Linked DNA regions of Homo sapiens: regions 1 and 2 are each linked to region 3. The links come from fine-mapping of genetic effects on gene expression. A gene starts in region 3. Each other region holds a variant in brackets. All regions are shown on one strand. Distances are between the middles of the regions. Region 1 has its middle 64 kb from the start of SIX6. Region 2 has its middle 29 kb from the start of SALRNA1. Region 3 holds the start of C14orf39 (chromosome 14 open reading frame 39).

What was found. PIP is the estimated chance that this variant, and not a neighbour inherited with it, causes the effect.
Region 1: its variant is the best candidate, but not a certain one, in a credible set for the expression of C14orf39 in minor salivary gland (GTEx, PIP 0.51).
Region 2: its variant is the best candidate, but not a certain one, in a credible set for the expression of C14orf39 in skeletal muscle (GTEx, PIP 0.81).

What each region holds. Positions count from the first base shown.
Region 1 is chr14:60,571,598-60,574,365 of GRCh38, reverse strand. It overlaps the pseudogene RPL37P5. Among named protein-coding and RNA genes, the nearest start is that of SIX6, 64 kb to the right of the region's middle. The variant A/G (reference allele first, on the strand shown) is at 1,681.
Region 2 is chr14:60,609,201-60,611,968 of GRCh38, reverse strand. No RefSeq gene overlaps it. Among named protein-coding and RNA genes, the nearest start is that of SALRNA1, 29 kb to the left of the region's middle. The variant A/G (reference allele first, on the strand shown) is at 1,203.
Region 3 is chr14:60,484,867-60,487,634 of GRCh38, reverse strand. It overlaps C14orf39 (chromosome 14 open reading frame 39), which reads left to right and starts at 1,572. Exons shown (of 18, transcript NM_174978.3): 1 at 1,572-1,690; 2 at 2,549-2,605; 3 at 2,698-2,754. The coding sequence starts at 2,557.

The sequences.
Region 1 (2,768 bases), 87 kb before region 3:
GGAGCCAAGAAGCGGAATGTGTTGTGAAAGTTTTGCTTTGTGGGACCATCATGGCTTTGAGTAGCAAGTCACCTATTATGAAACAGCTTGGGGAAGGCTTCCAGAGAAAATATGAGAAATCTGCTATGCATTTAGAAATGCTCTTTTTCAGACATGGAAGGGACATTACTTGCAAAACTAAAATATTTTGGAAGAGAAATCATTGGCTCATATCCACTTAATTAGGACGTTTCAAGAGTCCTTACCCTGGTTGGCATAGAGAATAACTTCTATTTCACATTAGCCTGATATCCCAACCAAAAAAAATTTTTTTCTTCTGCTTTTTAAATTATTTTTTGGTGACTTAACTTGTCAATTCAGACTATTTTGAAAAATTAAAAATTGAAGCTGTCAAATTGGAATAAGTTTCTGGGGCCAAATTTAGATCGACCTTGGGCAAGTCATTTACCTTTTTGGGTCTGGGATTTTTTTTTCTCCCTGCTGTGTTTAAATAAGTTGGACTGGATCTCAGATTTGCTGGACTGGTAAAAGCAGATGTGTCCTTGGCTATAGGAGTAGAAGGTGATGTAGTAATTTCAAGTGCTTTAACTATTAAAGACTTGCTTTCTTAACCAGAAAGTTAGGATGGTGATATGTATTTGTTAAGAATTTGATCATGGAATGAACAATGATAGATGTGCAAATTATTACTTCTTTGTGCGTTTCTTTTCTCAAAGATCATAGGTACAAGCCTGCCTCTAATTATATGTCATTTAGATGTGGCAATTTCATTAGAGGATGTCAAGGTGTTTTGCAAACATTAGTTAAGACTTAAATCTCCCTGTGAGTGATTATGATTGTTTTCCTGGCACATAGAGCAACAAACTGAGACACAAAACACTTCAGAATCTTCCCAAGATTACCTTCCTGAACACTGCCATTAAGAACCACATGGACTGTTTGTAAGTTACTTGCTCTAACCTGCAGCACTATATAGTCACTTGGTAGAAGTCAACTAAGGAATTTTTGAAAGAAGGCCAGTCAGCCTTGGTGCCATTGGCTAAAGTTCTCAGACATGTCGAAATGCGTGTCTTCTATGCAGAAGTGGAGGCAATCCCATCAAAGTGAGGGAGGGACAGTTACCATGAGACTGACTGGCTCTGTCTTCTTTTCAGAAGCTGAAGGCTTCATTCCCACCTGGCACCTGGCACCTGGGTAGATTCTATGGCATTAGGTGGAGTTCGTAAAGGCAGTGTTTCTGAAGAATGGAGATGCCCTCCAAGGTATTACTGTGGATACACTGGAGGGTCCAGGGTCTAAGGGAGCAGGCTAAGGGTTGGATAAATGGTAACTATGCTGCCTAATTTCACTCTTCACAAAAGCACAAGAGATAGACGTCACCCTGGAGAGTGCTGTAGTAATCCCTAAATGCCTTATAGGATTACTGAACCCTACTTTTACAGGTTCTTTCTGTTGTTCTTTTTTTCTTTCTTTCTTTTTTAAGAGATGGTGTTCCTCTAAGTTGTCTAGACTGACCTCGAACTCCTGGGCTCAAGCAATCCTCCCACTTCAGCCTCCTAAGTAACTGGGACTACAGTTGCATGCCACTGGCCCTGCATCACTGGTTCTTAATACGGGAAGATTTTGCTTTTATGACTGTCCACTTGGTGTCATGTGGAGAAATGGCTGACAGACAAAAAA[A/G]TACTAGTTGCAGTAGAATTTATTTATTCATTTCTCTTCTTTCATTGCCTTACTCCTAGACCACTGCCTCATTGGTTTTCTCATTTTCAGTTATTCCTTTTTCAGTCCATCCTGTGCATAACAGCCAAATAAGTTTATAAAGCACTGCTTTCTGTGGCACATCTCCTAAAAGTCTCCTATGGCTCTTCATTGTACAACAATATCAACAATAACAGCAACACAACAGCAACTAATATTAGCCAAGCCTTCAATTATGAGTAGACACTGCACTAAGGGCTTTACATATTATAAACATTTCTGCATAACTTTGAAGATTCCATTAAAATTGGATCTGCTCTTCCCATCTCTTTGGTGTCGACCACAGAAGCAACAAGATGAAGGGAATGTCGTTGGGAAAGCGTCACAAGAAGATGCGCATGTTGTGCCACCACTGCAGCTCCAAGGCCTACCACCTTCAGATGTCAACCTGTGGCAAACGTGGCTACCCTGCCAAGCGCAAGAGGAAGTGTAACTGGGGTGCCAAGGCTAAAAGACGAAATAGCACTGGGACTGGTCGGATGAGGCACCTAAAAATTGTATATCTCAGATTCAAGCATTGATTCCATGAAGGAACAACACATAAACCAAAGAGGGCAGCTGTTGCAGCATCCAGTTCATCTTAAGAATTTCAATGATTTGGGTGGTTGCAGTGGCTCATGCCTGTAATCCCAGGACTTTGGGAGGCCGAGGCAGGCAAATCACGAGGTCAGGAGTTCGAGACCAGCCTGGCCAACATGGTGAAACTCTGTCTCTACTAAAAATACAAAAAATTGGCTCGGTGTGGTGGCGGATGCCTGTAATCCCAGCTACTCAGGAGGTGGAGGCAGGAGAATCTCTTGAACCCAGGAGGCGGAGGTTGCAGTGAGCTGAGATCTTGCCACTACACTCTAGCCCAGGCAACAGCGCAAGACTCCATCTCAAAAAAAAAAAAAAAAAAAAAAGAATTTCAATGATTAGTCACTCAATAAATGTTCTGGTTTAAAAAACAAAAAAATAAAATTGGATCTTACCTTCCTTTTTAAGTTTTATTTCCTTCTATTCTAACATGA
Region 2 (2,768 bases), 120 kb before region 3:
AGAAGTTTGCTGCAGGGGTGGAGTCCTCATGGAAAACTTCTGCTGGGGTAGTGTGGAAAGTAAAGGTGAGGTTGGAGGCCCCAAACGGAGTCCCCACTGGGGCACTGGGTGGCAGAGCTGTGAGAAGAGGGCCACCACCCTTCAGACCCCAGAATGGTAGATCCACCAACAGCTTGCTCCATGTGCCTGGAAAAGCCACAGACACTCAACACCAGCCTGGGAAAGCAGCTGGGAGGGGTTGGGGGGAAGCTTTACCCTGAAAAGCCACATGGGCGGAGCTTCCCAATGCCATGGGAGCCTACATCTTGCATCAGCATGCCCTGGATGTGAGACATGGAGTCAAAGGAGATCATCTTGGAACTTTAAGGTTTAATGACTGCCCTGTTGGATTTCAGACTTGCATGGGGCCTGTAGCCCCTTTGTTGTGACCAATTTCTCCCATTTAGAATGGATGTATTTACCCAATGCCTGTACCTCCATTGTATCTAGGAAGTAACTAACTTGCTTTTGATTTTACAGGCTTATAGGTGGGAGGGACTAGCCTTGTCTCAGATAAGACTATGGACTTGGACTTTTGGGTTAATGCCACAATGAGTTAAGACTTTGGGGAACTGTTGGGAAGGGCATAATTGTGTTTTGAAATATGAGGACATGAGACTTGGGAGGAGCCAGGGGCAGAATGATATGGTTTGGTTGTGTCCCCACCCAAATCTCATTTTGAATTATAGTTCCCATAATCCTCATGTGTCATGGGAGGGACCTAGTGGGAGGTAATTTAATCATGGGGGTGGCTATCCCCAGTTGTTCTCGTGATAGTGAGTGAGTTCTCACAAGATATGATGGTTGTATAAGCAGCTTTTCCCCCTTTTGCTCAGCACTTCTCCTTGCTGCCACCATGTGAAGAAGGATGTGTTTGCTTCCCCTTCTGCCATGATTGTAAGTTTCCTGAGGCCTCCCCAGCCATACTGAACTGTGAGTCAAGTAAACCTCTTTCCTTTATAAATTATGCAGTCTCAGGCATGTCTTTATTAGCAGCATGAGAACAGACTAATACAGAGACCTTGTTAAAGACTTCTGTGCTCCAGAAGGTAGGACATAATCCCTACAGACATTCAAGGGTCCACCACAACTGTGAAGTTTTAAGGATCCTAGTAGTCTGGGACATGCCAGGACATTTTCTCCAAAGTAAACGACAAATTATA[A/G]TATCTTCCACCTCCTGCTACTAAGAAGGAAGCAAAACACTTGGTAGGTAGCTTTGGGTTCTTGGGGACAGTATATTCTAGACTTAGGAATACTGCTTTAATCATTTGCTAACAACCATGGAATATTTCCAGATTTGATAGGGGCCCAGAGAAGGAAAGGGGTCTGTTGCAGGTGCAGGCTGTGGCGAAAGCAGCCCTGCCACTTGGGTCCTGTGACCTGCAGACTGTGATACTGGAAGTATCTACAGTGGGTAAAGGTGTGTATCACAAACTCCAGTAGAAAAATCACATATAGATGCCCAGGGTCTGGCACAAAGTCATGCCCTTTGCAGTAGAGAATTACACGCCAATCACAAATACAGCTCCCTGAAGCTACTGTGCCCTGGTAATGCTGGAATATATAATGACCTTTTGGTCAGGCTGGATTTTGTCAGAACCGCCAAGTCATAAGATTTGGTGGGCCCATAAGGAATCCATTGTAAACTGGAAGTAGTGCATATGGGATTGGACACGAATGAGCGACGGGGCACAGATGAGCTGCAAGAGCAGGTGGCCAGACTCTGTGCCCGGCCCTACTTTTTTACATAGTGAGTGAGTATATGAGTAAGGTCATTGTGAGGGTAAAATGGCCTGGCTTCTGGCCTCTGTGTAGGATATCTTGGAATGGCCAGAGCACCCTATGGGATTGGCCCAGTTCTCCACTGCAACTGTGTTGCAGTTTAACTTCTCCCTTTGCCCAATCCTGTTTGCCTCTCTCTCTTATAGGTATATTCCCTGAGATCACTTACAATAAATCTCCCACACATGGCTCTCTGTCTCAGAGTCTGTTTGTTAGAGAACTCTACCTAAGACATTAGGTCATTCATCCCATAGAATGTCTGGATTTGGCTGATGTTTCCTTGTAGTGTGGTTTTACAGTTACTTGTTTTTCTATCCCTTTGTTTCCTGTAAAGGTGTGGTTGTAGCCAGAGACTTCAAGTAGATTCAGGTGGCAAAGTGTGAATGCATCATATTCCAAGGCATAAAATATCCGGATGTCTCACTTTTGGTAATGTTAATATTGATTGGTAGGTTCAGGTATTGTCATATAAGTTCTTTAATAGCCCTATTTTTCCTTTTTCTCATTTTCCCTTATTCTTTTCATTTTTCATTTCTGTTTCCTCCTCACCTCTTTTCACCTCCTCCTTTCTGTATGTCTCAGATTCCCCAGTGGCACCATGTTTGTTGGTGTGGAAGAACTCAGGGCTCTTGTGATTGCTGGTAACAAACTTGACCTCTTGAGAAAGAGGAAGAATAGCTGACCAGAGAGAAAGAAAATCATTAGTTTTCATGTTCAAATCATTGAATATCTTACTCTAACTCTGTAAAAATGAGTTTTTGTTTGTCCTTGGAGTGACTGAGAAGGGTGAGTTTGAACTGGATATGGATGACCATTTCATACCCTACTCTATCATCGCAAATCATCCCTTTCCCTTTCTGCCCTCTGCCTTCTCAAGGAATCATTACTGGCATGACCCCACTGCTCACATTTTATTGAAATGTGATGGTACTTGCTGCAGTGATAAA
Region 3 (2,768 bases):
CAAAGAATATAAAATCACTTTGTGGAACAGATGTCTGTGCTCTCATGTTCACTGCAACATTATTCACAATAGCCAAGATATATACTCAACCTATCCATTCATTTGTCAATGAATGGATAAACACACACACACACACACACACGGACTTTTATTCAGCTTTAACAGAGAAGGAATCTTGTCATTTGTGACCACATGGATGATGGATGAGCCTGTGGGACATTATGCTAATTGAAGTAAGTCAGGCACAGAAAGACAAATACTATATGACTTCACTTGTAGGTGGAATCTGAAAAAGCTGAGCCCATAGAAGCAGAGAGTAGAATGGTGGTTGCCAGTGGCTGGGGGAGGGAGGAGGTGGGAATGAGGAAATATGTTGGTCAAAGGGTACGAAGTTTCAGTTAGGCAGATTGAATAAGTTCTGGAGATCTAATGTACAGCATGGTGACTATAGTTAATAATACTGTATTGTGTCCTTGAAACTTGCTAAGAGAGTAGATCTTAAAGGTTCTCACCACACACACCCAAAAATGATTATATGAGGTGATGGATGTGTTATACAAATTAACTTGATCGTGGTGATCATTTCACAATGTATGTATACGTCCAAATATCATGTACGTGGTAAATACAATTTTTATTTGTCAATTATGCCTCAATAAAGCTGGAAAAACTAAGTAAAAGATTTTTCACACACACACAAAAGAATAAATCTGCTAAATTGTTACATTATCAAAACATGTTAGTTTTGTTGAATATTAATACCAACTAGTGAGCAATATGACAGCACACTATAATAAAATTGGTTATGCATATCTGATCTGAGGCACTTAAGGAAGAAAAACTTCTGAAACCTTCTTTTTCACTTAAATATTCCGTGAAACAGCTTAGGTTTTGGTGACTTGAGACAATTATTGTGATCATTTACGGTTAAAAACATTTCTACGAGAAATATACAAAGGATTGAGGCACTTTGGAGGACTGAACTGCTTAATGATTTTGTTTACACTCTTTATTTCACTTTGGATAGGCAGACAAAGCCTAAGAGCATAAATTACCTAAAGACAGCATTTTGGGCAGAAAATGTACTTTATTTGAAACTGAGCAAATGAGTCAGTCTCAAAATGTCCATTCAACTAATATGTATTTGAGTTGTGCTTGCTTTTTAAGATGTTTTGAAAAATGCTGAATTCAGAATTGAATTTTGATTATTGAATTGAGTATTTTTTACTCTTGTTAAAAGTTAATATCAATTTTATTGTTGTACTCCAAAATATTTTTAAAAACTTGTTACAAGAGGAATAAATAGGCTTTAAAAAACACTTGTCTTCAAGAAAACAGGAGAGTCTCTGACAGGTCTCTACTTCTTTGAGGGTCCTCTAACTCCAGCACCCACTTCTGTGGTTTTACGGGGCTTATTCCGCGCTTCCACCCGCGAAGAAGGAGCGGTTGCAGCCGCGCAGGTCTCGTCCAGAGCGCGATCTCGCTGCTCTTCAGCGCGATCTGCGGCTCCCGCGGCGTGCTCCGCGGGGTCTCTCAGGGCTGGTACCAGGGGCGTGGGGGCGGGGCTGAGCGAGTCCAGCCCAGGGCTCCGGGGACCGTTTGTAGTTAGGATCCGCTGTGGCGTCCTGAGTGGAGTTTGGGACCCCAGGGAGGGAGGGTGTGGGCGTTCGGGTCCAGAGGAGCTGTTTAGGTGCGTGTGGAAGGGAGCTGCATGTGGCGGTTTTTCTCTGGGCCGGCGGCTCTGAGGGGGAGCGTGTGCGTGGGTGGGAGGGGGCTGGCTGGCCCTGCCCCTCAGAGCGACCGGAGTCGCCTTATCCCCTGGGTTGGTGCGGCCCGAGGCTGAGGGCGCGGCGGGGGATGGGGGGGATGCGGTGTTGCAGCCTCGGGCGAGGGGAAGCCAGGACAGGAGGCTGTGAGGGTGGGAGTCGGCCGGCGAACTCCCACTGCGGGAGGCGCACGGGCTGTGGTTCCTGGGCTCTGAGGGGCACGGTAGACAGGAACCCCGCCTCAGGCGTATGCCGTAATGCGAATTGGCTGTTCTGTGAAAACCTCCAATTTTTTTATTCTTCGTGGTAAATTCGTAAATGCGAAATCGCACTGTTTCTCTAGGTTTACCCGGGTGTTGGGGAAGGGCTTTCGTTAGAATTTTGCTACACGTGGTTGTACACACGCCACCAAGGGACATATTCAGAGCGTTTACTTTAAAGGGCATATCCTGTGGAGAAATCTGGGTGTCCGTGAACCCTGGAAGATCCGGATGCTTGTTGCAATCCCACGCATAAGCGGTTATGCGGGTGCTTCCCACCCCATCCCCAAAACTTCAAGTCGTGCCCCGACTCAACAACGATTTCTGAAGCGCTCGTTGGGCTTGGCCCGGGAAGGGGCTGGGAATGTCGCCATGGGCTCAAGGGGGCCTCTCGTCTTCCAGTTCTGGCTCTGCCCACATGTTCCTGTGAAGAATGCTATATTGAAAAGGTCGTTACGAAATATATCCTGTTTTGCATACGACTTCAGAAAATCTTATAATTTTTTTTTTCATTTAACATAGTATCCAAGATGAATGACAGCCTGTTTGTCAGTTTGGACAGACTTTTGCTAGAATTTGGTAGGTATAAAGTGAAAAAATAGGTAGCTTTTTGTATGATCATTTGATATTTTAACAATGAATTGAAGTCACAAGATAATTATTTATTTTAGTCTTCCAGTATGAGCAAGACATAAGTACTAAAGAAGAGATGATTCAAAGAATTAATAGTAAGTAGCTTTGC